Linked DNA regions of Homo sapiens. The protein of the gene in region 2 interacts with the protein of the main gene of each other region in a biochemical or structural test. Each region holds a gene or a part of one and is shown on either strand. Other genes may lie near its edges. The genes, in order: HSF2, CUL3, KLHL6 and SHKBP1.

Evidence for each region.
Region 1: the proteins of CUL3 (region 2) and HSF2 form a complex in vitro, tested with the Homo sapiens proteins (one study listed by BioGRID).
Region 3: the proteins of CUL3 (region 2) and KLHL6 form a complex in vitro, tested with the Homo sapiens proteins (one study listed by BioGRID).
Region 4: the proteins of CUL3 (region 2) and SHKBP1 form a complex in vitro, tested with the Homo sapiens proteins (one study listed by BioGRID).

What each region holds. Positions count from the first base shown.
Region 1 is NC_000006.12:122,403,382-122,411,460, reverse strand, and holds part of HSF2 (heat shock factor protein 2), read right to left. Parts: intron 1-8,079. UniProt on the Homo sapiens protein: DNA-binding protein that specifically binds heat shock promoter elements (HSE) and activates transcription. In higher eukaryotes, HSF is unable to bind to the HSE unless the cells are heat shocked.
Region 2 is NC_000002.12:224,576,575-224,584,653, forward strand, and holds part of CUL3 (cullin-3), read right to left. Parts: intron 1-8,079. UniProt on the Homo sapiens protein: Core component of multiple cullin-RING-based BCR (BTB-CUL3-RBX1) E3 ubiquitin-protein ligase complexes which mediate the ubiquitination and subsequent proteasomal degradation of target proteins.
Region 3 is NC_000003.12:183,546,785-183,554,863, forward strand, and holds part of KLHL6 (kelch-like protein 6), read right to left. Parts: intron 5,543-8,079; exon of another isoform or gene 5,269-5,542; intron 2,180-5,268; exon of another isoform or gene 1,951-2,179; intron 1-1,950. UniProt on the Homo sapiens protein: Involved in B-lymphocyte antigen receptor signaling and germinal center formation.
Region 4 is NC_000019.10:40,585,848-40,592,939, reverse strand, and holds the end of SHKBP1 (SH3KBP1-binding protein 1), read right to left. Parts: intron 6,197-7,092; coding exon of another isoform or gene 6,167-6,196; coding exon 5,996-6,166; intron 4,317-5,995; coding exon 4,161-4,316; intron 3,859-4,160; coding exon 3,762-3,858; intron 2,697-3,761; coding exon 2,518-2,696; intron 2,211-2,517; coding exon 2,087-2,210; intron 1,965-2,086; coding exon 1,733-1,964; 3' UTR 1,543-1,732; downstream 1-1,542.

The DNA.
Region 1 (8,079 bases), on a different chromosome or scaffold from region 2:
AATGGAACTACATCAAATCTAAAGACTACCAACAGACTGAAAAGGCAACCCTCAGAATGGAAAGAAGAAAGTGCAAATCATATACCTCAGGAGTTAATATCCAGAACATAGACATAACTCTTAAAATTCAAAAAGAACAAAAGACAAAAAAAACCCAAACAACCCGATAAAAAACGAGCAAGGATGTGAGTAGATATTTCTTCAAAGAAGATATACAAACTTCCAATAAGCAAATAAAAAGATGGTCAGTAACACAAATCATTAGGGAAATGAAAATCAAAACTAAAACAATATACCACTGCACACCCATTAGAATGGCTATTATCAAAAACGCATAAAACAAGTGTTCACAAGGAAGTGGAGAAATTGGAATATTGGTGCATTATTGGTGGGAATGTTAAAATAGTGTGGTTGCTGTGGAAAACACTATGATAGTTCCTTTAAAAATTAAACAAAGAACATATAATCCAGCAATTCCATTCCTAGGTATATACTCAAAAAAAAAAAAAAAACCCAAAAACAACAACAAAAAAACAAAACAAAAAAAACCATAAAAGCAACGACTTGAACAGATATTTGTACCCCATGTTCACAGTAGCATTTTTCACAACAGGCAAAAGGTAGAAGTAACTTCAGTATCCACCAACACATGGTGAAATATATATGGATAAAGTATGGTATATACATGCAATGAAATATTATTTCACCTAAAAAAGGAAATTCTCACAAGCTACAACATGAAAAGAACTTTGAAAACATTATGCTGTGAAATAAGCCAGTCACAAAAGAACAAATACTGTACAATTCCCCTTATATGAAGTTTCCATAATAGCCAATTTCAGAGACAAAAAGTAGAATGGTGGTTGTCAGGGGCTGCGGGGAGGAAGGAGTTAGAAGTTATTGTGAAATGGGTATAAAGTTTCAGTGTGGAAAGATAAAAATTGTTCTGGAGATGGATGGTGGTAATGGTTGCCTAACAATGTGAATCTAACTTAATGCACTTAAAATGGTTAATTTTATGTTATGTATATTTTACCACAATTAAAAAAATTAGAAACTAAAATGGAATAAAATATCCCAATAATAATAGAAAAATGTTAAGTATCTAAAAATAAAATTTAAAAATATACAGGAACTTTAAAAATATTAAAACTATAGAAATACAAAAGGAAGACAAATGCAGTATTGTAAAGGTGTCAATTCTCTCTAAATTAACCAATACATTAAATTCTGTCTTAATTAAAAAAATGATTTGTGGAGTAAAGATGAATTGATGCTATCATAACCAAATGTTAGGTACATAAGTTCATTTGTAAAAATAATTACATAACAACAGGAAAGAAAATATTGAGAACAATGGGGAGGAGTATTTTAACCCTACCCAATACAGATTATAAAATTATAGTGTTAACAATTTAGTACAAAAGAAGAAGTGATTACATAGATGAATGGACTGACTAGAGAGGACAGATGAACCAGCAAATCTATCTGAGAATTTACCAGGTAGTAAGTCAAGATGGCATTCAAATGGGGGGATAATCAGGAAAGAAAAGGATTAAGAAATTTTCCATTTGGGAAGAAAAATAAGAGCTCGATGTCATCTTACTCTTTACAAGCAAGCTTTTGGAGACATGACATAATAAACCCAGAAGACATATAGATAAAATATAAATTTATCCATGGAGACTGCTAGCTTCCTACTCTATCTCTACTCTCCTCTACTTTCTTCCTAACAGAAACACAATTTTGATGAAAAACACATTGTGAAATTTAGAAGAGACCCAGACTCATAAATGAAGAATGTAGAGCAAAACAAATAATGATTTTCCCTTATTAGATTAAATTTACAACCCTTGACAATAACCAGTATTGGCAACTAGGTAATTATCAAAATTAAAATGCTTAAAATGCATACGTCTTTTCCTATCTTAAAAGAACTTTCCCTCTTATACCTTCTTTTTCAATCTACCCATCTGTCTTTTCCTTAACTGCAAAATTTAACAAGCAGGTATTTTAAACCCCCCTTCTCCAATTCAGGACCATCCACTTACTCTCACTGAAAACTGCTTTTGGTTCCCTCACTCGACTGAAACCAGATTTCTAAAATGTCAAATATCAAATTCAATGCCCTCTTTTCAGTCCTGATCTTCCTACACCTCTCTGTGGCATTTCATTTGGTACAACTAACAATCTCCTCCTTAAATGTTCGACTCTCTGGGCTTTGATGCTAAACACTGTTGAGTCTCTTATCTCTTATATTTCCTTTCAATTTTCTTCCACCTATCAAATAAGAGGTAGCTGTATTTTCCAGGTTTTTATCCTTAATCGTGGCACCATTCATATTCTTTCCTTAGAATTCATCCACAGTAGGGTATCTTATTATTGACTTTATTTTATAATAAACACATCTACAGCTCTGTCCCTGATCATCTCAAATTACACACTTCAATTTAAAATGTTAACATTTTTTACACTATGTTCTTTAACTCAGTATGTTCTAAACCCATTTCCTGTTTCCCCGGAAGTCAATCTTTTCTTGTGTCTTCCATTCTACCAAGTCCCTTCCTCACTAAGTCACCCGACAACATTTGATGTCAAAAAAAAAAAAAAAATGAAGTTAAAAACTCTCATTCTAACAGCTAGTAAGGGGGAAACATTAAAACATTCCCTTTAAAAATTAAGAACAAAGCCAGAATGCCATGATAATTGCTTCTACTCACTCTTAGTTACTGCCAAAAGAAAAACGGAAGGCATAAAGGTCTGAAAGGAAGAAAATAAATGTCAATCACAGATACTATGGGTGTACTCAGAAAACTGAAATCAGTAAAATGATTTGCTCACTGATTTATTATCAATATACAAAAATTACTTGTATTTCTAATTACCAGCAACAGCTAGAAATCTATTTTTAAGTCAAGAACACCATTTACAACATATATAAGATATCCAGGAAGAAAATGAACAAAGATCCACAAGGCCTAATAGCAAACATAAATCAACAAAATGAATTTAGAAATATGCCTTGTCATGAGAATACACAACACAGAGATATCGATTTTCCCTAATCTGATTTATATAGTTTTGATCCAATTGCAGCAAAAATCCAAAAGGCTTTTTTTTTTTTTATGGAACTTGATTTTAAAACATATGTGGAAGAGCTAAAGACCAAAAATACTTAAGGCACTCCTGAAGGATAGATTACCCTACCAAAAGACTTTTTCTGAAGCTACAGTAATTAAGACAGCAGAAGACAGGCACAGGATAAATTGTCCAATGGAATGGCATAAAGACTCCAGAAACAAAACCACTGAATGTTTGTGTCCCCCAAAATTCTATGTTGAAACCCTTGCCCCTGATATGATGGTATTTGGAGTTAGAGCCTTTGGGAGGTAATTAGGTTCAGAGGAGGTAATGAAGATAGGACCCCCCAGGTTAGGTTGGTGTCCTTATAAGATAAGAGAGACCAGAACACACTCTCTCTCTCTCTCTCTCTCTCTCTGCCATTGGGAAGACACAGAGAGAAGGCAGCTGTCTGCAAAGCAGAGAAAGCTCTAACACAGGAACTGAAATGGCCACTGCCTTCATCTTGGACTTCTCCACCTCCAGAACTGTAAAAAATAAACGCCTGTTGTTGAAGCCACCTGGTCTATGATATCTTGCTACGGCAGCCCAACTGATTAAGACAATATCTACACGTACTTGTGACGTAAGATAGAAGTGGCAATATAGATCATTGGAAAAGGAAGAACTACTCAGTAAAGGTGCTAGACAACTAAAATGTAAAAAGCCACAAACTGGAAGATATGGCCAAAACATAAACTCGAATATGTAGAATATATAGGAATTCTCACAAATAATAAAAAAAAAAACAGAAAAATGGCAAAACAAACATTTCACAGAACAGGAAACACAAATGGCCAACGAACGTGAAAAGGTTTTAGAACTCATTAATAATCAAGAAAATATAAATCAAAACCTCATTGAGACAATGCTTTACATCAATTAGATTGGTAAAAAGTAAGAACGATAACTAATACACAGTTTTGAAGAGGCAGATTAACAGAAAATCTCATACATGGCTAATAGCGGAATAAGCTGGTGTGATCTCTTTGGAAGATAATTCACACTATCTTGAGGTTAGACATTTCATATCCTATATCCCAGCAAGTCACATGAGTGTACAGACCTTAGAGAAACTCTTGCTTATATACACCAGGAGAGATATACAAGAATATTCCTAACAGCATGTGACACAGTTGATCTCTTTCCTGAGCCATTTTCTTTCATTAACTTCTGTGGGTTCACTCCCTTGATTTTCCTTCTTTTTCACTGTTCCGTCTCAGCCTCCTTTGCTGGCTTTTGTCTTCATACTCTCTAAATGTTGGAATAATACATCTTTTGGTTCCTTCTATCTTCACAGAAGATGATTTCATTAAGTCTCCTGGCTTTACCAGTTACAAGGTCTAAACTCCACCCTGAATGCCAAAGTCTTATACTCAACCACCTATTCAACATTTCCACTTGGACATTTTGGAGTGTGGAAGTCAGTCAAGCTGTTCAAAAATACTCCTGTTTTTTTTTCTAGCACTGCACTTCCTCATCCCTTTTGAAATTAGGTGTGGCCATATGACTAGGCATGGTCAAATTTAAGAAAAATTAAACAATTTTCAAGTTGTTTCAAATACTACTAGAGATCCATTTTTAATCTCAAAGTTAATATGCCAAAAAGAATCTCTAACATCTTTCCTCAGCAAATGGATTTATCCTGTAGTTCAAACCAAATTTATGAATCATTTTTAATTGTCGTTCCTCCAACCATAGCCAATTTATCAATTTATCAGCAAATCCTGCAGCTTTGCCTTCAAAGATTTCAAAGCTACATCTCAATACCTTGACTGCTGCTACCTTAGTCTCAGCCATCAATATTTTCAATACCATACAGGAAAACTGTGATAGTCTTCTAACTGGTCCCCTCATTTCCAATCTTCTTACTATAGATCTAGGGCCCTATACCATCTGCTCCTGCCTACCTCCCTACTCTCACTCTCCTAATTCCCTAAAGATATTCTAATCACATGGGCCTTCCTGCTTCCTTGAACAGCCACATTCAAGGCCTTACCTTTTGTCATTCCCCTTTGGCCCATCTTTTCTAATCATTTAGATCTCTCCTCAAACATCGTCTCCTTGGAGAGGCTTTCCTCATCACCTTACCTAAAATATTCACAAATCCTAGTCTGTTTATGGGCCAGTTATCAATTTATTGCTCCAAATTCATTCTTCATTGTCTGCTCTACAAGCATAGAGCTTGGTTCCTTAAATAAATATCTTTCTTTTTCTAGGTGCCATGATGTTAAGTTCTGTCAGCAGGGGATAAAAGAGAGATATTACAAGAAAAAGGAGCTCTTGTTCCTGACTCATGTATCCTTGGCAAGCTTCTGCAGTGGAGGCAGCTTCTCCAGTGCCTAGCTCTTGATATTAATGGTGGTCAGCAACACTCAAAGACCATCAGCTTTCACTGGTGCTTCCTCTCCCTTGGGAGGTTTCAAAGCAGAGTATCTCTAACAAGATATCTCCCCATAAACAGTTTTTTAGAGTACTCCAGAACAGGGATTTATAAACTTTTTCTTAAAGGGACAAATAGTAAATTAGGCTTGCAGATTATAACATCATAACTCTACCTTTGTAGTGAGAAAGCAGATACAGACAATATGTAAATAGATTGGGCATAGCTGTGTTCTATTTAAACTTTTTTTTATAAAACAGCTGGCAAAAGGACTACAGTTTGCCAACCCGTGACCTAGAGGGCATATTTCCCACCAAGTTTTGAAGGATGCATTTCCAGTAAGTTCCACCAGAGCAACACCAGTGACTGCTCTGCTACTGAGTCATGGCCATATTCCTTCCAATAAGGTAAGAATCTTAGCCTTGGCAAAAAAGGTTCTTACTTGGGCACTCTATCTCAGCCCTATCAGTAGTGGCTGCTTCTTAAAACTATTCTTGTATTCTTTTAATTTTCTTTAATTTCCCTGATATAGTCAGTAACTCTATTAAACTTACCCTCTTGAAAATACCTGTGGCTTCTGACTTATGATTGCATCTTAACCGACACACAGTTTATCTTGGTGTTTTTTAAAGGCATTTATCACTAACTGAAATTATATTGATTGTGTTTTGCTTGCTTTTACTTTTTTTTTTTTTTTTTTTAAGAGACAGGGGTCTCAGTATGTTGCCCAAGCTAGCCTCAAACTCCTGGGCTCAAGCAATCCTCCCAACTCAGCCTCCCCAGTACCCAGAACTACGACATGCACCACCATACCCAGCTTGTATTTGCTTACTATTTATTGATATCCACCACTCAATGTAAGCTCCATAAAGGTAGGCACTTTGGTTCACTACTGAATGAATTCCTGATACCTAGCACAATATTAGGTCATAACAGATTCATAACAAATACCTGTGACTGACTAAATTAATCTTTGGCCAAATAAACTGAATTTTTAGAATTTCAACTATTTGATTATATAAAATAGGGAGATGACAATAATCTCTTGCTATACCTGTGCTCACTCTCTCTCACATACACTCCTTATTCATTCATATCACTCTATCTCTGCTTATTGTATTCCCTCAGTCTCTATTCTAAAATTAGTAAATAACTTCTTTGAGTGCAAAAATTCACCTTCCTGTCTTTTAAACCTGTGAGGTTCAAGCAATACAACACAGAATCTCCCTAAGTATTTTACAAGGATGAGAAAACTACTACTGAGTGAGGTGGGAAAGATAGGCACCTTCTCCTTAAACCTTACCCACAAATGTTGGCAAGAGTCCAAAGAGTAGAAACAGTCGTTACTCTCCAAATTAATTTTGGCACTCTTGTTAGAACACTCAAAATATTCCTAATAATCTAATACTTCAGCCACATTACTTTAAAACATTTTTCGGAACAGAAATTTGTGGCTTGCTAATCTATAATTTTTAATATGCACCAGCTACTCTTTTAGAGTCTTTAGCTCATTCTTTCTCTTATATATACAAATAAAAATACTTGAAAATCAATCTTTCAACTTTTCTGCAGGTCCATCTAAGTTGGATTTTACCCCCATCCTCCCACACTTGTAGTCTTTCTTATTTTCACTTTGAAATACTAATATAATGCAATGGTTGCTGGGATGTTCAAAACAATACTAGCACTTTGTGAAGTCCAAGGGCCTACTGCTCAAATTCATCCAAAACAGCTAGAAAACAATGGAAAAATTCTGTTTTTGCTCTCTCTCCCTCCTACCTATTTCCTAATTCATCTCTGCTGACATGAGGGGGATAGAGAAGCAGAGAATGCCAAAGGGCACAAAAAGGGGGGAAAGCTGGGTATGAAGTCTTTGGTGGAAATCACTTCATTTTCTCAAACAATCTGAAGAACAGAGACAAAGGTAACAACACTGACAAAAGGATGACCTTCCAGTTCTTTCCTTCTTTTATACTGCTTCACTTCAGCATACGTTGGTTGTAACATTTCATTAACTCGTAAAGGCTGTTTTTTACTATATAACTTCATTTAACCTCTACGGCCTTGTCTCTGAATATCAAGTTTCACCAGTTGCTTCCAAGCTAATATGTGCCCTCTCTTTAGGACACTTAAGATTTAAAACAGTTTTAGGTCGTCTGACAGTACAATCTCTGTACTTGATTCTGACAACAGACTACCAAAGCCAAGAACAGTTATATAAAATTTTACATTTAAAGGAAATGTTAAAAAAAATGAAAACTTTTCATTTTTGTTTTTCAGAAGAGTAAGGAGAAAATGGAAATATGTAAAACATACTTTCTTTTCTTTCTGTTTTTTGTTGTTGTTGTTTTGAGACAGGATTTCGTTCTGTTGTTCAGGCTGGCTTGCAGTAGTGTGATCTCAGCTCATTGCAACCTCTGCCTCATGGGCTCAAGCCATCTCCCCTCTTCAGCCTCCTGAGTAGCTGGGACTAAAGATGCACGCCACCATACCTGGCTACTTTCTGTATTTTTTTGTAGAGACAGGGTTTCACCATGTTGCCCAGGCTGGTCTCAAACTCCTGGGCTCAAGCAACC
Region 2 (8,079 bases):
CAATCATTCACTAACCACTCACACTATGCTAAATGCTGCATGGTTCAAAACGATGTCTGGCATAAGCTTTGGACAGGGACCACAACCTAACCTAGTTCAGGAGTGAAAAAAAAGGGGGGGGGGGGAGGAGAAGGAGGAGAAAGGGAGGAAAGGAAGGAAAAAAGAAAAACTAGATGTGTTTTTAGATGCACATTTAACGTACATATTATAGAACATGCAAACCAAATGAGTGTTTATTCCTTCAATAAAGTTACAAGAGGTTACACACTTACTCTAAGGATTACATGTGAATCATATATGAACTTCTGTTTTTGAAGCCACCCCTCAAGAGCCAACAGGATTCTTTAAGTATCCCAGTGGTACTAAACCCATATCCTTTGAGAATGCTTTCTTAGAACGATTCACAAACTGGCTCTGCAGGCTTTTCAAAACTTAAGTTCTAGAAGTTGTACAATAAAATGACAGGATCGCTAAAATAAGTGTATGGCATTCGATGTAACTGCTTGCAAAAACAACATCCAATTTTAATATTGGCCTAATCGTGGCTAAATATTGGTATAATAATAGTTAACTATCTGCTAAGTTCTATTTTAAAGCTTTATTTTATTTATCACACAACAAACCTGTAAGGTGGGTCTCATTAGCAGTCTCATTTTACACAGGGGAAAACTGAGGCTACAAGAAGTAACTTGTTAAAGGTTATGCAGCTAGAGGCCGGGCGCGGTGGCTCACGCCTGTAATCCCAGCACTGTAGGAGGATGAGGCAGACGGATCACGAGGTCAGGAGATCGAGATCATCCTGGCTAACACGGTGAAACCCCGTCTCTACTAAAAATACAAAAAAATTAGCCAGGCGTGGTGGCAGGCACCTGTAGTCCCAGCTACCAGGGAGGCTGAGGCAGGAGAATGGCGTGAACCCGGGAGGTGGAGCTTGCACTGAGCTGAGATCACGCCACTGCACTCCAGCCTGGGTGACAGAGCGGAGACTCTGTCTCAAAAAAAAAAAAAAAGGTGATGCAGCTAGAAAGACATGGAGCTGGTATTCAAGCCCACACTCTTAACTACTATGCTTTCAGTCTCTTTACTTTTTAGTCACATCCCTATATTCATATGTTGAATACTCCAGTGCAAAAGTAAATGAAAATTCTCTACAGACTATTCATAGTTTTATTCTCCTAAGTAGTCAAAGAAATGCAAATTAAAGCATTAAAGTACTATTTTTTCACCTATAAAATTAAACATACATTATGCTGGGTAAGATACTGCTACACAGAAGTTAAACGGATACAACCTTGAGAAATATAATTAATTCTTAAGAGTGCTCACTTTAGAGCCAGATTGCTTGGGTCAGAATCCTAGTTCTGCCACTTGGAAGAATACCTTAAGCAAATTATTTAGCCTCTCAAAGCCTCATTTGTAGAACAGATAATAGTAGTATTCAATAGAGTTTGCTCAAATGATTAAGTTTAGATATGCAGAGTACATGATAAGCATTTAGAAAGTGTTAGCTATTATTATTACCCTTATGGAGGTCAATTAGGTAATATATTTCAGTTACGTGCAGCCCAATAATTCCATAATCATAGATGGACTCAAATATTTATGTGTCTAAATAGTCATAGTTGCAATCTTTTTTAACAGAAAAAATATGGACTCCCTGGAATCAACCAAAATATTTGGCAATAGGGAAATGGTTAAGCAAACTGAAGTATGATAGTCATTAAAAACTATGTTTTCAAAAATTTACAGTAAGAAATTTTTTAACAGCAGCATATACAATGATTATCTTACCTTAATTTTACTGTCTGTTCAGCCAACAATATGAAATTAAAATTCCAAAAACACATGAAAATGTTAATGTTGTTTGTTTCCAAGTGGTAGGATTACAGGTGATTTTTTTTATTTCCCTACTTGTACATTTAGATAATTATCAATTTTTCTACCAGGAATATACATCATTGTTATAATTAGAAAAGCTACTAAAATAAATTCATTGCTTTAACAGACTATGGTTGAATAGTTTTCACAAGACACTGATAGACTAATAACTAATTGTAATTCATGTGTTAACTCAGTGATTTGTTCTTACTAGTAATACCTTTACATTCTGTTGACCTTACAATGGGCTAACAAGAACTACTTTTAAAAAAAAGTTGCATTATTTAAAACTACAAATTGTCTAGTAACTTTTATATAAACCTAACAGGACTACTAAAGACCATCCATGTACTCTGGAATGAAAATAACAAAAAATTCCCTTTAAAGTCCCCCAATGTATAATATAAAAAAAAGGCATACCACTTTTTCTAGCCTTAATCATATAATCTTCCTGAACTGGACAAATGCTTTCATCCCTTAACTTCATTTAATGAATGATGTACAAACAAATGAAGCATTCTCTAATTTGTTTGAATCAAGTTTGTGATTTATGTATTACTTAAAAAGCCAAATTTTTACATTATATTTCATATTACTTAAATAGTTTCTAATTCAATATTGGTACTAATAATTTTCCAGGTTCCTCTGAACTGCTATCTAGAAAGACAAGACAAAATAAATACTTTGTTAATAACAACCGTATGCTTTTATTTTTCTAACTTCTAAAGTCATAGTAGTACTAACAGCTATGACAATACTGGCTGTCCCAAAACTATAAACAGTATTAGTTTAAGTATAAGTAACACTTTAATGAATCTGTTTCACTTTGTTTCATAACATGAAAAATGAAAAGCAAATTTATAATTAATTCTCTGCTCAGTGTGATCTGCAAGACTACCATCCAGCTTTCCTCTATGTACCAGTCCAGGTAGTACTATGCCAACAACTACCTTCCCTAAGAAAGAGAAACCTACTATGAAGATGAAAGCTGTTCCCTCAAATCTGGCAAACATTTCTGTAGCTCGAAGAAAAGAAAAAAAAAAAAAGATTAACTGTACCCATCTGTCCTTAAGACTCTTCCTGTTCTTAAGTATATCACAAATGAACATAAAACTCCTTCACTAATGTGAGTCGCCCTGTATGTTCCAGCTAACAATCACTTCCAAACAGTTGCTGTCCATGCTACACAAGTGGAGTTCCTCTAGCATTAGGGAGTGGGCATTTTATCATAACACTCTTTCTCCTGATGAGTTAGCAAGCTTTTATAAACTAACTGAAGCTACTTCCAGGACCCCAGGGTAGAGATCTTAAGAGCCTGATTACATTCTGGAGACAGTCACCTTCATAACAGGTTTCCCAAACTCTGAAGGCTAGGCCAAGAAAGGCTTTATTACCGTTTGATACAGGAAAGGACAGCATTTTCATTCAAACGTATCCTCTCCAATTCTAATCAAGCTCATCAAACCCATGTGGGCAAAACCCCAGACAGTAAAAATGGTAAGAAATGATTTTTCAAAGATAAAGATAATAAAAGGTTCACCTGAAAGCAACTAATCCTACATAGTGGAACAAAGCCCAGGAGTAAGGAAGAGACTCCCTGGGGCAGAATTATTTGATCCAGACCCACATTATTTCCAGAAGTTTCACAATTACAGCCTGCTTTCTTTAAAAAGTTTTGTGGTCCTTGTTCCTCTGCATACAAATTAAAATTTAAACATTATCAAAAAGATGTGAAATGATACATTTTGTGCAAGGCGGGAAAGCTTATAAACTGGAATAAACTTTTCCTTTGTCAACAGCTTACAAATACAGAAACGTCCTTATTGTCTTCCATCTTAAAAAGAACTTCTAGGAAAAGGTCTATTTAAAAATGCAAATTGTGCATTAAACTGTTGTGTATTATAACTTCTACAGACAATGATGAAGGTATACTTAAAATACGCACTAAGGCTGAAACGCGGTGGCTCACAGCTATAATCCCAGCACTTTGCGTAACAGCGGTGGGCTGATCACCTAAGATCAGGAGTTCAAGACCAGCCTGGCCAACATGGCGAAACCCCATCACTACTTAAAATACAAAAATTAGCCAGACGTGGTGGCGCAAACCGGTAGTCCCAGCTACTTGGGAGACTGAGACACAAGAATCGGTTGAACCCAAGAGGTGGAGGCTGCAGTGAGCCAAGATCGTGCCACTGCACTCTAGCCTGGGCGACAGAGCAAGACTCTGTCTCAAAAAAGAAAAAAAAAATGCACTCAAAACACTAAAAAGAATCTGATATTACTGATGGGAATTTATCTGGAGTAGTATCTATAAAATATCCAGTAAGTTCAATTACCACTCTATTTTGCAATGAAAACAATCTCAAAACACAATTCTATATTTTTTTACAAGTTAATTTTGTAAAACAATCTGAGATGAGTGCTTGAGATTTTTTTTTTTTTTTAAGACAAGAGTCTTGCTCTAAGGCCTAGGCTGGGGAATGAAAGAAATGGGGGCGTGGATTTTGGTCAAAGGATACAAGTTTTAAGATGAATACATTGTGGAGATCAAATGTGCAGCACAGTTAAGAACAGTTAATAATACTATATTACATATTTTACATTTGCTATGGCAGTAGATCTTACTTGTTCTCATCACACAGACATAAAAAACAGAACTATTGGCCGGGCGTGGCGGCTCACACCTGTAATCCCAGCACTTTGAGAGGCCAAGGCAGGCGGATCACGACGTCAGGAGTTCAAGACCAGCCTGACCAACATGGTGAAACCCCATCTCTACTAAAAAGACAGAAACTAGCCAGGCGTGGTGGCACACGCCTGTAATCCCAGCTACTTGGGGAGGCTGAGGCAGAAGAATCGCTCGAACCCAGGAGGCGGAGGTTGCAGTGAGCTGAAACCGTGCCACTGCACTTCAGCCTGGGTGACAGAGCGAGTTTCCATCTCAAAAAAAAAAAAAAGAGGTGATTATGTGTTAGCTTGATGGTAGTAATCATGTCAGAATGTATACATATATCAAAACATCATGTACATCTTAAACATATATAATTTTTCTTTTCTTTTTTTTTTTTTTGAGACAGTCTCACTCTGTTGCCCAGGCTGGAGTGCAGTGGCACGATCTTGGCTCACTGCAACCTCTGCCTCCCAGGTTCAAGTGATTCTCGTGCCTTAGCCTCCCGAGCAGCTGGAATTATAGGCGTGTATCACCACACCTGGCAAATTTTTGTATTTTTAGTAGAGACAGGGGTTTGCATGTTGGCCAGGCTGGTCTCCAACTCTTAACCTCAGGACCTCAGGTGATCCGCCTGCCTTGCCTCTCCCGAAGTGCTAGGATTACAGGTGTGAAGGTGTGAATCACCTTGCCCGGCCGAGTGCTTGACACTTTTGGTGAAACTACAGTTTCCCTTAAATTACAGTAAGTATACATCCAAACAACAGATGTAAAATACAATAATTTTTAAATATGTACATATGTGGAACCATAAACAATTAAGGATGTACATATGTATAACCATAAACAATTTTTTTTTTTGAGACAGAGTTTCGCTTTTGTTGCCCAGGCTGGAGTGCAATGGCGCGATCTCAGCTCACTGCAACCTCGGCCTTACAGGTTCAAGCGATTTTCCAGCCTTAGCTTCCCAAGTAGCTAGGTTTACAGGCATCCGCCACCACGCCCCGCTAATTTTTTGTATTTTAAGTAGAGATGGGATTTCACCATGTTGGCCCGGCTGGTCTCAAAGCTCCTGACCTCAGGTGATCCACCTGCCTCGGCCTCCCAAAGTGCTGGGATCACAGGCGTGAGCCACTGCGCCCGGCCATATTTTTTCTTTACGGAACACTAGGTATTAACTACTTTTGACTAGCAACTCACGCAGTCTGTAGTTATGAACAAGACTGCCAATCTGGAAGACAGGAATTTTGAAGGTCTATAAGCACACGGTTAGTAAGATAAATCTATGAAACACCCTAACACTGAGATATACATCTATCTGTAACAAAGGGCCATAAACTGTAATAGTTCTTTCCAATGGGAATCACTTAGGAATGTTATTAATACTTATTAAACAGTAATGAAAAATTCTTTTAGAAATCAGCAGCTATTAACTACTGAATACCAAAACTAGTCACTTACTTCATGTAAGGTTTTCAGAAAAACCTGCAAAAGTTATAGACAGAATGGATCCAAATTAGCTCATAATCATAACGAAGCTAACAAAAAAAAATTCAGTTCCAGTACTATGTGGTAACGTATCACACAACGTTATTATACTGGTCAGCTAAAGGAATAATGAAATTCTCTCCCACCTCTTCTCCCCAACAATATTAGCTCCAAAAGGCAGGGATCTTGGTCTTTCTAGCTATACTGACAGACCCCCAGAACAGTGCCTGGCACATAATATTCAGTATTTGCTGAACAAATTAAATGATGGCAAAACAGGTAAGAGCAGGGAAACCTGAAGAGGTCAAAGAGTTTAATTACACATACATTAACGTACAACTGGTCAATCAGAAGGCCATTAACTTGAGTGAGTTGATGTCAAATTTGAGTTACTCCACATTTTAGCAAAAAATCTTATTTAGAACATGAGACTTCAAGAATTGAGTAGTGTAAGGCTGCACACACTGCTAGAAAATCTGTTGTATATAGGCCTGGCGCGGTGGCTCACTCCTGTAATCCCAGCACTTTGGGAGGCCGAGGTCGGTGATCACCTGAGGTCGGGAGTTCGAGACCAGCCTGACCAACATGGAGAAACCTCGTCTCTACTAAAAATACGAAATTAGCCCGGTGTGGTGGCGCATGCCTGTAATCCCAGCTACTCAGGAGGCTTTTAACCCAGGAGGCGGAGGTTGCGGTTAGCTGAGATCACGCCATTGTACTCCAGCCTGGGCAACAGGAGCGAAACTCTTGTCTCAAAAAAAAAGAAAATCTGTTGTATACAACTATTAACTTCATAAAATTCTAAGTAATTCTAAACTCTAAAGTGGTCAGAATTTAGTAGGAAAATTAATATCACTCACAAATGCATAACCCAGCTCTGCCCAATTATAAGGGAAAACATACTAGTAAGCTTCGTTAGTACTCGCTTGTCAACATTTCTCACGTTTACTTAGAAAAAAGTTTGAAACATTCAAAAAATCTTTAATTATTATCAAAACACTTATTCTCCTAAATTCCATCGTACCTATTTACACAAAGCAGAGGTTTTCGCACACTGACTTTAGTATTTATGTTCTTACAATTTCAGAATTCTGCATGAGGTGTATCCTTTTAAATTTTAGGAATTCAGAGAGGTCCTCATGTTCTCTGAAACTAAATCACTTGACTCAACTGGGGCAATCACATCAAGGTAAGTCTTTCCTCACTGCAACTGCGCTTCAGGAAAAGCATGCTTTAAAAAGTGACAACAAATCCCCCTCTTTCGCTGGTACATCATATGAAGTATTTATGAATCTAAGAAGGGAAGACCAAGATCTTTCTCTAATTTTACTTTTTAAAATCTTCTGTCCGATTGCTAGTTCGTCTGTCTTGACGTATGCCTTTTATTGTAGCGACATAGGCAAGTATGCCCAGTTCGTTAACAGTACATTTTAATTGCTTGCCACGGGGAAGCTGAACCAGATTTGACACCCAAAGTTATATCCTATATACTAAACATCGCAAGGGTACGACTCAACGTAATGCCAAAAAAGAAAAAGTTTCTGAGCAGAACACGTTTGCTGTCACTGAAAGCGATGAAACAAAGCTACTCCGCAAGGCGACTACACTCATTCTTTGGGCTCCCAAGGCTGAGAAATGGAGAACCAATTGGCCGGTTTGCTCTCTGTTGCTTCCCCCCCACCCGGCCTTCCTCCGAGTGGCGAGGCAATCCTGCACAAGAGTTTGTAAAGTGCTTAGGAAGCTTGTAGGATGAAAGACGCTATAAATACACCCAATGTTACTAGTTTATGACCACGGAGCATTCCGTGGAACCACTGTCACTGCGTCGGGGGCAGGTTGATGGCATAGACCTTCCTGGGGAGGGGGGCAGAGAGAGAGGGCAGCCCCTTCATCACCCTAAAAGCTAGGCTGGGTAAATTTTCAAAGTGTAGCGAAACCCCACGTGAAAAGTTCCACACACGCCCCACACAGGGAGGACTCCGCGGCTGCTAGCAGCGCCGGAGACTGGGCCTACAACCCCGGCAACGTGGGGAGGCGTGGGGCGG
Region 3 (8,079 bases), on a different chromosome or scaffold from region 2:
ACGTAAATTGTTAGCCTCGCTCTATTGTAGACATCGGCGTTGAGCCTCAGAGGAGCCAAGCAATTCCTCCAAGATTTACACAGCCAACAAGTGGCGAGTCCGGACTGAAACCCCAGTGCCATAAGTCTTTTTTTTTTTTTTTTTTGACGGAATCTCTCACTCTGTCGTCCAGGTTGGAATGCAGTGGCATGATCGCAGCTCTCTGCAACCTCCGCCGTCCGGGTTCAATCGATTCTCCGGCCTCAGCCTCCTGAGTAGCTGGGACTACAGGCACACGCCACCGTGCCTGGCTAATTTTTATATTTTTTAGTAGAGACGGTGTTTCACCATGTTGGCCAGGCTGGTCTTGAACTCTTGACCTCAGGTGATCCACCAGCTTCAGCCTCCCAAAGTGCTGGGATTACAGGAGTAAGCCACTGCACCCGACCTCAGAGTCTTTATTTATTCCACTTAGGACAACTATTTGTATACTCACTGCTGAAGTACTAATGCATTAGACTAAAGAGCGCTGGAGGTGCTATATAACATTTAAGATATGCTAATATCCAAAGAATTCTGAATGGCAAAGCACATCTGGCTCCCAGATTTTTGGGTAAGGGATTATGGGGCTTTCTGATAATGTTAACAGTTTTCATTTTGGTGTTATTTGTCTACCTTTTCTCACATGCATATCTTTCCATAGTTTACATGCAATTTTGCATCTTGCTTTGCCCCCTGTTTTCATTATAATATTTTTCCTACGGTGCTCCATGCTTTTCATAATGACTATTTATTATATTGCTACCAATTTCAACAGAGGCATAATATGAAAATCATTCTCTCACTGTGGACATTTAGGTTGCTTCCAGTATTTTGTTTTTATACGTGACGTGGTAATCTTTGCATTAAGCATTTTTTCCCAGTTTGGAATATGGACGGCCTACATTTTTTCAGGCACTTTGCTGGATTCTTTTTATTTCATTCAGTCTTCATAATATCAAGTAGATAGCATGGTGTCCATTTCATCCTTGGGGGAGCTCACTTTGATGGGAAGAGTGGTTTCCCCATGATGTCTAAACTGAAAACAGGCCTCTTCACAGAGAACAGAAATGTGGCTAACAGGTCATTTCCTATGACCCCTCAGCTCCCCAAGACTCTTTTGCTAGTGTAGGCTACATAAGCTGAAAATGAGGAGGAAATGTAAAAATCAGAGCCTCCTTGTGCTCATACACACATGCACAGGCAGGATACTGTTGGAACATTCATTCCAGTTTATGTCTGGGGGCTGAGCTGACAGACCCCCATAGCAGCAAGGACCCAGCATGCCTTAGGACATCAGTCTGGATCAAAGGGTTAAAAAAGAGACAAGGAAGCAGGGTCAGGGTGTGCAAGGTGAAAAGACAGTGCGCTCTGAAAATATATGGGACCTCACTGTGGCTAGAACCAGAAACTGGTTCTCACCATTTGGGAAGCCCAGCTCACTGCAAAATATGGCACACTCTGTAAGTGACAGTGACCTGTGAGGGCAGCCCTGCTGTGATTCCCAGGGTTGGCAGAGGGAGGGGAGTCCTAGTGATGAGGGGAGGGGTTATCAGGCTTTTCTCTGCCCTGTCTCATGACTGGCCCTTCCTTCATGCATAGAAAAGCTTCCAGGCTGAGGCTGAGTCATTAGCAATCTCCTTTGTTGATGCTGCTGCCTGGAATCCTTGTCTGGATTCCTGTCTCACTCCTGTCTTGTACCGCAGTCTCTAGGTCTGGTTCCTTGAGGCTATGTTGAGAGGACTTTACCCGCCAGCTACAAAAATCAGGCATAAGGCCAGGAATGGGAAGGTTATTGTGAGCACAATCTATGCACTTGTTAATCATTATTACATATTAACCAATTACTGCATGGCAGAAAAGTGGGGCAAGAGACTACTCTTAAGCCACATGTAGATGTTGTAATCCTGAGCTTTGTCTCCATAATGGGGTAAGATGTCAGAAAAGAGTCAGAAAGCCCAGGTGATAGAATAAGTGCCAAGAACATATACACCATGGAATACTGTGCAGCCATAAAAAGGAATGAGTTCATGTCCTTTGCAGGGACATGGATGAAGCTGGAAACCATCATTCTCAGCAAACTAACACAGCAACAGAAAACCAAACACCGCATGTTCTCACTCATAAGTGGGAGTTGAACAATGAGAACACATGGACACAGGTAGGGGAACAACACAACCCGTGGCCTGTCGGCGGGTGGGGGACAAGGGGAGGGAGAGCATTAGGAAAAATACTTAATGCATTCAGGGCCTAAAACCTAGATGATGGGTTGATAGGTGCAGCAAACCACCATGGCACGTGTATACCTATGTAACAAACCCGCGCATTCTGCACATGTATCCCAGAACTTAAAGTAAAATTTAAACAAATTTTAAAAAAGAGAATAAGTGCCAAGAAAAACAAGAATGAGTTAAGGCCATGTAGGTCTGTATTAAAAATCTGGCTAACAGCAAATGTGTTGAGGATTGCTGCTGCCACAGTGGGTACACTTGAGAACTCAAGTGAAGCCAATGATTGTAACACCAGGGTCAGGCCCTATATTTTCCACTTTTAATATTTTCCAATATTGTGGATCAGAACCAATATGATAGTAAATATTTCAGCATTATATATCTATAATCCCTTATCTGTAGTTTCAAAATTCCCAAAGTGCTGATAAATGTAAAGTTTTTTGTAACTTATTTCATGGCTAAATCCAACTTGAATGGCACTCGTCAGGTCGGGACACCTGAGTCTTGCTCTGTTGCCCCGGCTGGAGTGCAGTGGCATGATCTTGGCTCACTGCAACCTCCGCCTCCCAGATTCAAGCAATTCTCCTGCTTCAGCCTCCCGAGTAGCTGGGACTACAGGCATGTGCCACCACGCCCAGCTAATTTTTTGTATTTTTAGTAGAGATGGGGTTTCACCATGTTAGTGCTTGACTCTTAAATAGGAACAGATATCCAAAGACTACCAGATATTTAAGTATAGCCTCTAAAATAAAAGACAGAGGCCAGGTGTGGTGGCTCATGCTTGTAATCCTAGCACTTTGGGAGGCCGGGTCAGGAGGATCCCTTGAGCCCAGGAGTTTGAAACTATCTGGGCAACATAGGGAGACCTTGTCTCTAGGAAATAAATAAATACATACATAAAATAGAATAAAAGAGACAAAAACAAAGAGAAAAATACAGTGAAAACAAACAGTAAAAAACAAACAAAAACAGAAGAGTGGTTTTTTAAAAAATATAAACCTCAAAGAGATTAAGTGAAAATATGACCTATACAAAACAAGAACAGGATGTTATAAAAAGGAAGCTTCATACATAAAACAAGAAAAAAGTCTTGGAAGTTAAAAACTGAGATTCTCAACAGGTTGGAAGATAAAATTGAGAAAAATCTTCCAGAAAGTAAAACAGAAAGATAAGAGGATGGACAACAGGAGAGAGAAGATGAGAAAGCTAGAGACTGTTCTAGAAGTCCACATCTACTGAATAAGTGATCCAGAAATAGTAAACAAGGAAAACAGTAACCATGTAATTACCAGGCAGTAATATGAGGAAATGTTCAGGATTAAAGGATGTGACTCTCCAGATTAAAAGGGTTCATCAAATGCATAGCATAATGGTTGGAGTAAAACACACATACACACACACACACGCACGCACACACACACCCCTCCAAGGCACATCATTGTGAAATATCAAAATGTTATTTAAAATCAAAGAAAGGCCAGGCGTGGTGGGTGGCTCACAGCTGTAATCCCAGCAATTTGGGAGGCGGAGGTGGGTGGATCACCTGAGGTCAGGAGTTCCAGACCAGCCTGGCCAACATGGTGAAACCCTATCTCTACTAAAAAAATACAAAAATTAGCCGGGCATGGTGGTACATCCTGTGGTCCCAGCTACTTGGGGGGCTGAGGTGGAAGAATTGCTTGAGCCCAGGGAGGCTGCAGTGAGCCATGATCAAGCTGCTGCACTCCAGCCTGGGCAACAGACCAAGACCCTGTCTCAAAACAAAACAAAAATATATGCGAGGCCTTAAAAATTTACTTCCTATGGGCTGGGCGCAGTGGCTCACGCCTGTAATCCCAGCACTTTGGGAGGCCAAGGTGGGTGGATCACGAGGTCAGGAGATTGAAACTATCCTGGCTAACATGGTGAAATCCTGTCTGTACTAAAAATAAAAAAAAATTAGCTGGGCGTGGTGGCGGGCGCCTGTAGTCCCAGCCACTAGGGAGGCTGAGGCAGGAGAATGGCATGAACCCAGGAGGCGGAGCTTGCAATGAGCGGAGATACTGCCACTGCACTCCAGCCTGGGCGACAGAGCAAGACTCTGTCTCAGAAAAAAAAAAAAAAAAAAATTACTTCCCATGCACTCTTTCTTAGGAAGTTATTGGAGAATGTGCTTATCAGGGTAAGATGGTAAACCAGGGAAGAGAAAGATAGGGGTTGAAGGGAGAAGGCTCCATTCAACATAGCAGACAGTCCCGGGGAATGATGGAGAAGCAGGTGAATCCCAGCCAGCGTGCAAATCCAGGGAACATGTGTAACATGATGCAAGGCAGGAGGATTCTGAGGAAATGGAACTGGTAGATTGTTTGATGCATTGGACCATATGAAAGATTTTTGTGAGCCTGTGAGCAAAAGACACCCCAAAACAAAGCAAATGAAAAAATGAGTGAATTAATAACTTCAGGAAAGACAAAAGGTTTACAAGAAAAGAAACGTGATCATTGAGTAATTTGGCTCAACAGAGAACAAGGTTTTCGTGAACATAATAATGTAAACTCTTGTTGTGATAACATTATGTTGAAAGATTACAGGGAAGGAAAGCTTATGGTAAGAGGTTAGGTAAGGATACTAAATCCTTATTTGAAATCAGTGAATGATGTCTAACACTGAAAAATCAAGAAAGAGCAGTATAAGTGTATTTTGCAGAAATATAGAGCTAGTGCCAGAAGAAACAAATAGAAGTTGAAAGTGGTAGCCTTTGGCGCATGAGACAGGGTGGAGGAGGAAATAGGAATTTTTGTTTTTTCATTATAAGCCTTTAAATACTATTTAACGCTTTGTTTACTATTTGCATATCTTTAATAAAAAATAAAATTTAATTTTAAAAAAATACATGAAAAACAGAAAGGCAGTGAAGAGACAGTTCAACAAAAAAAGAACTGCAGATGCCCCTTAAACATACGAAGAGATGTTTGATCTTACTAAAAATAAGAAAAATGCAAATTAAAGCTAAATTGAGATATTCTTTCTCATTTATCAGATTGGTAAAACTTCAGCGGTTGGATGACACCCTCTTTTGGTGATGCCGTGGGGGAACGCAACATGATTCAACCCCAATGAAAGAGAAGTTGCAATAACCGCTAAGACTGCAGATGCATTTGACTCAGCAAACCCCCTTCAAGAAATGCATATGAAAAAAACTCATGTTTCAGGTTATTCATTACAACATTGTTTGTAATAGCAAAATGTGGATTAGAAATAGTCCAGATGTCTGTCCGTAGGGGACTGTTTAATAAACTATTGTCAGTCCCTTAGTGGAAAGTAATTATTTTCTCAGTGAATAAAGGAAAAAAATGACATAATTTTATAACCAGCTTCCAGGCCCTCCAAAACACAGAGAGCTGTGTTGAAAGCCTCACAGACTGGTCGGGCGCGGTGGCTCACGCCTGTAATCCCAGCACTTTGGGAGGCCGAGGCGGGTGGATCTCGAGGTCAGGAGATGGAGACCATCCTGGCTAACACAGTGAAACCCCGTCTCTACTAAAAATACAAAAAATTAGCCGGGCGTGGTGGCAGGTGCCTGTAGTCCCAGCTACTCAGGGGGCTGAGGCAGGAGAATGGCCTGAACCCTGGAGGCGGAGTTTGCAGTGAGCAGAGATTGTGCCACTGCACTCCAGCCTGGGCGACAGAGCGAGACTCCGTCTCAAAAAAAAAAAAAAAAAAAAAAAAAGAAAGCCTCTCAGACAGAGAGACTCTTTGACCTCCCTAAACCTGAGCATACGAAGAACCCCTTTCAAAACCTCAGACACAAAGCGAGAGAGTGTGTCAGATTTAACGTCAGTCCTAGGTCTAAATCCCAGCTTGGCTACTTTTTATTTGCTGTGACACTCTGGACTTTGGCTCACCGTCGGTAGGCTGGGGATAGGACTCCCTGCCTTGTCAGGTTGTTGTGAGGGTGGAGTGGACTAGAGTATGTGATACAGAAGCTACAGGGCCTGGCCCACAGTAAGCGCTCCACAAACAGGAGTTGATAGGAATAGTAGCACCGGAAGAAAGAATCCTGTCTCCAGGACAGTATTCATTGTAGAAGGAAAGTCACGTTGAAAATCCCAAGAGAAGAAGCAAAAGTCACTTCTCTGAAGAGAAGAATTGAAGGAATTTCCTCTCATGACCAGGCAGTTTTGGGAGAGGCTCTGTATACACAGTCAGATGCCTTCACCCTCATGTTCTCCAGCTTCTCATTGCCGTTGCCTCCTCTGACGACCGGCAGAGACTTTCCCTAAGTATCCTGGATCAGCAGGGCTGGAAGGACCCAAGCCCAAATTCCCATTTAGGATGAGAAACCCAAGAACCAGAGAAGACCAGTGATCAACTCGAGGGCACACAGCCAGCGGGCCTGGTCCACAGCCAGGCCAACCCGCTAACAAAACTGCTTCCAGGTATGCATTTTATGATAGCAAGGGATACAAAAGGATCAACCTAAATGTGCGTCCCCAGGGCATTGAGCTAACTTGACTTCACTCACTCCTGAGAGGGGCTGCAGTCAACGTGAAAGCACGTGATCAAGGTTGGTGGAGAAAGTAATGTGTTTATATCAACCCATTTTGATGGCTGTGTTTACACTTTATATTTTACACACTTCCCATGGAATGAAGTCCCAGACCTAGTGGCAGCTTGCATTGCAGTAACAAGGATTTCCAGAACATACCCAGTCCCTGCTCCAGCAATGACCAGATATATAATGCTGAGTTTTCATTTCCTCATCTGTGAAATATCAGCCACCTTCATCATGCTGTTACAAAAATAAAATCAGATAACTATGTCTGTCTGGCACACAGCAGCCACTGCTTCCCTCAAACCCAGATATCCCCTTGTCTTATCAACACAGGAGACCTAATGAGTCCCACAGCAACCTGCTGATCCTGCTCTATGAATTACAAAGAAACGTTTCCCCCCAAGCACCTCAAAAAAAAAAAAAAGAAAGAAAGAAAACGCTTTCCATAATACTTTCATAGGTTAATCGTTTTCAATTTCCTCAGCCAGAATCAAGAGTTAAGAAGAATCTCATTAAGAAGAATTCTAAGGGTATTTCTTTTCAAGTTCCCAAATACTTTCTTCATTATCCACATTGCCCTTGCAGGCTGGTTCCCCCATGTCCATGCTGATATGGAGAACACTGGATCAGGTGTATTCACTGGGTTCCCAGCGCTATAAAATTCCTACCCCAGGGACGTGCTCATGGGAAACACTCAATAAGTCATCCTTAGCTGAATCAAGCAGAATCAGAAAAAGAATTCCAAGAAAGATATATTGAGCATCTACTTACTATATGCTAGACACTGTGTAGGACCCTTTTCACGCTCTTGTTTAATTATGACAGCCCTGAAAGGTGATCATCATTGTGCTCACCTTACAGATGATGAAACAGACATTCAGAGCACTTTGTGACTTGCCTAAAGTTTCACTGTCAAGAAGGAACCAAGTCTCCTGACTTCAGGCCTTCCCACTATGAGATCACCAGTTTATCGTAACTAGAGGCCTCTCCCATCTAAAGCATCTTTGTAACTGCTTTCCCTTTCCCCACACTGCCTACACATAAAGAAGCCCCTAATTTGTAACAAGTCATTTGACAACTCCAGAAGAGGGGCCACATCCTTTTTCTCTATGTCTGTTGATTAACAAAGACAACATTATGTTTCCAACACCAGTCAGACCAAGGGGGAAAAAAGTCCCCATGACTTCAGTAATTTTCCATCCTTTGGAACAAGGAAATATACACAAAAGGTTTACTATAGAATGTAAGCATTGCTTTTAAATGATGCCAATCTCTCTTTTAATGTGGCCTAAATCC
Region 4 (7,092 bases), on a different chromosome or scaffold from region 2:
CCTTGACACTCCCCTATTCTAGAATCAGTGATTTTTCAGGTCCTTTTTGTCAGAAACTTCTATATTCTGGATTCTCTGATAAGCAGGGGAGAACTCTAATATTGTTAATCCATGAGCACTCCAGAATATCCTTGTGTCCGAGATGTCCTAATGTTCGAGACCCCTCTCTACTATGTTTCAGAAGCTCTGGCATTCCAGAAACTATGGAATTCTAGAATTAGCATGTTCTAGTATTCTCTACTCCTAGTCTGTCCCCACTTTCTGTCCCTTTTTTATTGGCACAAGGAAAAAAGATGCAGAAAATCTCCTCAAGGAAGTGCCGTAGGAACGGGCATTATTTGGGGAAAAAAAATCCCAAGGCCAGCCAGGAAAGGTGGCTCACGCCTGTAATCCCAGCACTCTGGGAGGCCGAGTTAGGTGGATCATCTGAGGTCAGGAGTTTGAGACCAGCCTGGCCAACATGGTGAAACCCTGCCTCTACTAAAAATACAGCAGGACACATGATCCAGGCTGCAATAATGGAAGGCCTTCATCACACTGGCCACAGTAATTGGTTCAGGAATGGCCACCTGACTTAATTCAAGCCAATGAAAATCAGTCTTGTGATTTTTGCTGTTGCTAGGGAAGAAAGAGTTGCTAAGCAGCTGCTTAGAGTCACCTTGCCACAGAGAGAAAACCTGATTGAAGATGTATTCCAGAGGTAAGTGAAGTTAGGAGATAAAAAGATATTCTGGGCCGGACACAGTGGCTCTCGCCTGTAATCCCAGCACTTTGGGAGGCTGAGGTGGGCAGATCACCTGAGGTCAGGAGTTCGAGACCAGCCTGGCCAATATGGTGAAACTCTGTCTCTACTAAAAATAAAAAAATTAGCTGGGCATGGTGGTGCACACCTGTAATCCCAGCTACTCGGGAGGCTGATGCAGGAGGATTGCGATTGCTTGAACCCGGGAGGTGGAGGTTGCAGTGAGCTGAGATCATACCACTACACTCCAGCCTGGATGACAGAGTGAGACTTTAAAAAAGAAAAGAAAAAAGAAAAAAAGATATTCTGAATTAGTGTTTGAAGCCCCGGATCCAGCCATGCCTGAAGGCAGAGTAAAAGCCAACACATTCCTCCCCTGCAACACCTTTTTTGTTTTGTTTTGTTTTTGAGACAGGATCTCACTCTGTCACTCAGGCTGGAGTGCAGTGGTGTGATCATGGCTCACTGTAGCCTTGGCCTCCTAGGCTCAAGCGATCCTCCCACCTCAGCCTCCCAAGAAGCTGGGACCACAGGCATGCACCACCATGCCTGCTTAATTTTTGTATTTTTTTGTAGAGATGGGGTTTTGTTATGTTGCCCAGGCTAGTCTGAAACTTCTGAGCACAAGCAAACTGGCCTCCCAAAGTGCCAGGATTATAGATGTGAGCCACCATGCCTGGCCTCCCTTTGCTTAAACAAGAGAGGTAGATGTTCCTGATTTTGCATATATCGGGTTGGGTCCCACATCTTCCCCACCCCTTTCCTGGGGAGTCCCAAACCTGCTAAGAATAAGCAAGATGTTGGCAGTGAGGACTTTATTGGGGAGGGTGACTTTGGCTTCCAGAAAAGAGGGAAGGTGGGGACCTAGTAACAATAACCATTTATTCCAAGGAGGCCCTGGCCCTGAACCCGGGGTTCCCACAGGAATCAGGGAGGCACCTGAGTCCCCCAGGACCAGGGCATCCCAAGGCATCATGGCAGCTGCGTTGTTCAAAAGGAAGTTTCATTGAGCTTCATCTTGGGAGGTGTGAGGGGAGTGCCGAGACCGCTGGAGGGCCACGGGGCTGGTGTGGGTGGCCGTCGGAGGTCTGGCCCACTCCGCACCAGTTCCTGGCAGCGTTCCACAAAGCTGCCCCCACCACGGCGCCGGGCCTCAGCCTGCGGGGGGCTTGGGCTCCCACGGTGGCCAGACAAGGAGGTGTTGCTGGAGGCTGAGTGGAGGCTGAGGAAGTAAGGACAGTAAGTGCACGTCATCACGGGGCAGCTGGGCCACTCTGTCCCCGGGAACACCATGCTGTCCCCTCTCCCCTCATTGCACAGAAGGGGCAGTGGAGTTGTGGCTACCTGGTGAGGGAGATGCGGGGTGAGGGGCTGGGGAGACAGCCCCATGAGGGAGCTGAAGGAGCCGGCGGGGCCAGCTCACAGTGTTCCAGCTGTTCCATCAGCTCTTGCTCCGTCAGGCCACCTGCTGGGGGGCACGGAAGCAGGGTCAGGGGGCAAGACAGGGGTCATAGGGCAAGGGCCTGGGTTGCATTGCAGTGCAAGCACCGAGGGTCAGGACAGGAGAGAGGAAGCAGAGATCAATGCATGGGGGCCAGAGGCTGAGACAGGGGTTGAAAAACAAGGGCAGGAAGGGATGGGGAGCAGAGAGGGGGTCAAAGGAAAAGGGGTCAGAGGGCAAGGGCCTGGGAGAGAGATCAAGCAGTTGGCAGTGGAGAGTGGTTCTGGGTGAGGCTGTGGGGCTTGGGACGGGATTGGGGTGGGGCAGGGAGTACCAGGGGCCTGGCCGAGGCCGTCCATGGCGGTGGTTAGGTCCCACATGGCCAAGCTGCCGTTGGCCTGGCCAGTGAGCAGGTAGCGCCGGGGCCGAGAGCCGAGCCGCCGGGAGCCCTCGCACTCCAGCACTGTGAAGGCTGTCGTGGGTGAGCCGTCCACGGAGCGCACGGAGCACACCCTGGGGGGTGCAGTGGGGGAGGTGGTCACCCTCGCTTTCTCACCCTTCCTCGTCCCAGTCCCCACCACTGTGGCTGCAGTTCCTGCCTCTCCAGGGGCCATCCCAATCTTTATCCATCCCTAGCCTGCTTTTGAGTTCCAGTCCCAAGGGTCCAGCAGCTCTTGGACACCGCAGCCCCAAACACCCAGGGAGTCTCCCAGAGCTTCTGCTCTTCCCTGCTCCCACTGCAGGGAAGACCTGAGGCCCGTCCCAGCTGCTCCCCCACCTCCTATCAGCCTCCTGGCCTCCTCCCTGGGCTCCTGGCCTCCCATCAAGCCTCCTTTCATCCCCCATGCAGTGGCCACGGCTCCCCGCACAGGACAAAGCCTCAGCCCTTCCACAGCCTGACAAGGCCCGCCCGCATCTGCACCCCATCCTCACCTCCTGTTCTGTGCTCCAGCCCAGGAGCCCACGTGTCCTTCCCATGTGACCCTATTTGGCCCTTCTCAGCCTCTGCACATACAGTTCCCTCAGGCTGGGGCCCCCTTCCCCTGCCTTCTTTCTTCTGCTCCTTCCTACTTGTCCTCTAGGTCTCTGCTCAGAGTCCCTTCATCCAGAACATCCTCCGAGGCCCCTTTCCCAGCTGAAGCAAGGCTCCTACAGCTCCCTGGGTCTCCTCCATCCCATCCCGACCCCTGCCCCTGGTCCCCCTATCCCACCCCAACCCCTCCCCCTGGTCCCCCCATCCCACCCCGACCTCTCCCCCTGGGCCCCCATCCCACCCCTCCCCCTCCGCCTGGGCCCCCCATCCCACCCTGACCCCACCCCCTGTGCCTTCAACCTGGCCCTGCCTGCACTGGGCTGGCACTGCGCCAGGTCAGTCCCACCAACACCTGTCACACCTTTGATACCAGAAGACAAACCTACCAGGCCTGTCCTCCCTCCCAGCCTTTGCTCCTTCAATGCTCCTTGGCTGGGACCCCTTTCTGGCCTCAGTGATCTGGCTAGCATCTTGCCTTCTCCCCTGACCTCCCTCCCTGTTGGACAGGACTGTCCTCCCTCCCTGTTGGACAGGACTGTCCTCACCGCTGCCCAGTAGATGAGAGACGCACGAAGAGCTGGCTGGCACTGGGCACCACCTTCTGGATGAACACTTGCTGGTCGTCCCGCTCACCGTAGGGGCCTGGGCCAGGCAGGGGCAGGGGTCAGGGCCAGCTGGGATTCCCTCAGCCTCAGACTTCCTTCCCCACTGATGAAACCCACCACCCCAAGACCCCAGTCCCATCCCCAGGTTGTTAGAGTTGGGCAGGGCCAGAGAGGGCTGGGGGGTTGTGGCAGTCAGTGGAGCTCAGGTGCCTCAAGGATCAGGACACCCCAATCGTTGCAGGCTCCTGGGTCAGGTGGCCGCAAGTGGGAATCAGCGGAGGTCAACAGGGGTCAGGTAAGGGGGTCAGTGGGGTGGGAAGGCCAGGAGCCAGTAGGCACCAATGTCATTGCCAGCACTGCAGCCGCCATGCCCATCTGCCGACTCCAGAGCCAGGATCTTAAAGGAAGCGAGTGGGGTGGAGCCGGGCTGGGTGGAAATCATGCCGCGGAAGCGAGTCACAGACCATGTCCGCACGTGGTTGTTGTCGGCACAGACTGAGGGGCACAAGGAGAGCAGGAAGTCAGGCCTGGTGCAGGCATCAATGCTGCCTGCCCGTCCAGAGCCTCAGGACAGCCCCGTTTCAGGAGGGTCAGCCCTTGCTGAGTTCTTCCCTTTCAGAGAATCCTTTCCTCCCCAGAATTCCAAATGTTAAAAACCCTGTTGCCTCTGCCTCCAAAACTGTTCCAGAGCCTGATCTCACCTTGCCCTATCCTCTGCCCCACACCGGTCCTGGTCCATTTCGTCACCTGCCTGGACCGTATCAGCACGCCCCTCCCAGAGGTCCCTGCTCCTGTCCTATCCCAGTAGTGTGCTCCCACGGGCAGCCAGGTGGAGCCTGTGAACACCTGAAGCTAGTCATGTCCCTCCCCTGCTCGGAGCCCTCTGTGGCTCCTGCCCTTGTCACCTCCATACCCTCATCTCCTCCCATTCTCCCCCTCATTTACTCTGTTCCAGGCACAAGTGGCTCCCTGCACTTCCTCAGGCATCCTCTCACCTCAGAGCCTTTGCAATGCCTGTTCCCTCGGCCTGAATGCTTGTCCCTACCAATCTGCACTGCTCATTCTGTTATTTCTGCTCAAAGGTCCTTCCTCAGGCCTTCCCTGAATGACCCCTCTCCAGCGACTTGACACTCTCTAGCCACACACAGCTTCATGTTTATTCATAGCCCTTATCATTGCCTGGTGTTGATTTAGATTATTTTATTAATATTTTATGAGATAGAGTCTTGCTTTGTTGCCTGGGCTGGAGTGCAGGGGTGCAATCATAGCTGATTGCAGCCCCTGACTCTTGGGCTCAAGTGATCCCTCCACCTCAGCCTCCCAAGAAGCTGGGACCCCAGGTGCATGCCACCATACTTGGCTAATTTTTTAAAAATTTTTTGTAGAAACAATGTCTCACTTTGTTGTCCAGGTTGGTCTCACACTCCTAGCCTCAAGCAATCCTCCCACCTTGGCCTCCCAAAGTGCTGGGATTATAGGCATGAGCCACAGTGCCCAGCCTGATTTGCATTTTTATCTATTTATTTTTGAGATGGAGTCTCGCTCTGTTGCCTAGGCTGGAGTGCAGTAGCATGATCTGGGCTCTCTGCAATCTCCGCCTCCCAGGTTCAAGCAATTCTCCTCCCTCGGCCTCCCGAGTAGCGGGGATTACAGGCACGTGCCACCACACCTGGCTAATTTTTTATATTTTTGGTAGAGGTGGGGTTTCACCATGTTGGCCAGGCTGGTCTCGAACTCCTGACCTCAAGTAATCTACCCGCCTTGGCCTCCCAAAGTTCTGGGATTATAGGTGTGAGCCACCGCAGCTGGCCATTGATGTCCATTTTTATAGATTTATTGTCTGCCATCGCTGCTAGAATGTCAGCTCCACGAGGGCAGGGACTTGGCCTGTCTTGTTCATCACTGTATCCCCTATGCCTGGCACATGGTGGGTGCCCCGTAAATCGTTGCTGAATTGATGGATTCCCAAACACACACAGATTCACTCTTCCCCAGACTGATCCCCTATGGTATTCTCTCACTTCTGCAATTACAGTCCCATCCCAGGTCAATCCTCTCCGCCAGAGCTCTCTTCCTACACAATGTCCCTCCCCAGTGGAAATTCTCATCCTCCTGTCTCCACACTCCCATCTGAGCTGTCTCTCCCAGCACTGGAGCACCCCACAGAGGCTCACCTGAGATGAGGTGCTTCTCCGACAGCATGATCTTGGTGACAGGGCTGCGGTGCACAGTGAAGGTCTGGAAGAGCTGAGGCCCCGAGCCCACAGTCTCCGGGTGCTGCACGATGACCCGCACGCCCCCTGAGCTGGTGCCATAGGCGATCTCGATCCAGTTCCCACTGTCACCTGGTGAGGGGCCAAGGATGAGGAGAGGGCCTGGGCCACAGAGACAGAAACCAGGGCAGGGAGAAAGAAACAGGCACAGAACAGAGACACAGTCAGAAAGCAAGGAGAGGCCGGGCACGGTGGCTCACGCCGTAATCCCATCACTTTGGGAAGCTGAGGCGGGTGGATCGCTTGAGGTCAGGCGTTCAAGACCAGCCTGGCCAACGTGCTGAAACCCTGTCTCTAGTAAAAATACAAAAATTAGCTGGTGGTGGTAGTACGCACCTGTAATCCCAGCTACTCAGAAGGCTGAGGCATGAGAATTGCTTGAACCCAGGAGGCAGAGGTTGCAATGAGCCAAGACCACGCCACTGCACTCCAGCCTGCATGACAGAATGTGACTCTGTCTCAAAAAAAAAAAAAGAAAGAAAGAAAGAAAGAGACACAGAACAGAGACACAGTCAGAAAGCAAGGAGAGAGGGAAGGACACAAAAAGATGGTGATGAGATGTGGGAAATGGAGGAACAGGGAGACAAAGGCACAGGTCAAAGGAGGAGAGGCCCAGAGACAGAAATTGTAACAGTGAAACAGCAAATAAGAGAGGAAAGAGAAAGTAAAACAGAGAACAGAGGCCGAGGCAGGAAGATTGCTTGAGGCCAGGCGTTTGAGGCCAGCCTGGGCAACATAGTGAGACCCTCATCTCTACAAAAGATTTTTAAAAAACTAGTTGGGTGTGATGGCATTCACCTATGATCCCAGCTACTCAAGAGGCTGAAGTAGGAGGATCACTTGAGCCCAGGGGGTGAGGCTGCAGTGAGCTATGATTGCGCCACTGCACTCCAGCCTAGGTGACGAAGCGAGACTGTCTCAAAAAACAAAGAAAAATGACATAATAGTGGCATGTGGCGGGAAGGGAGATGAGGAGGAAATGAGTAAGTAAGTGAAAT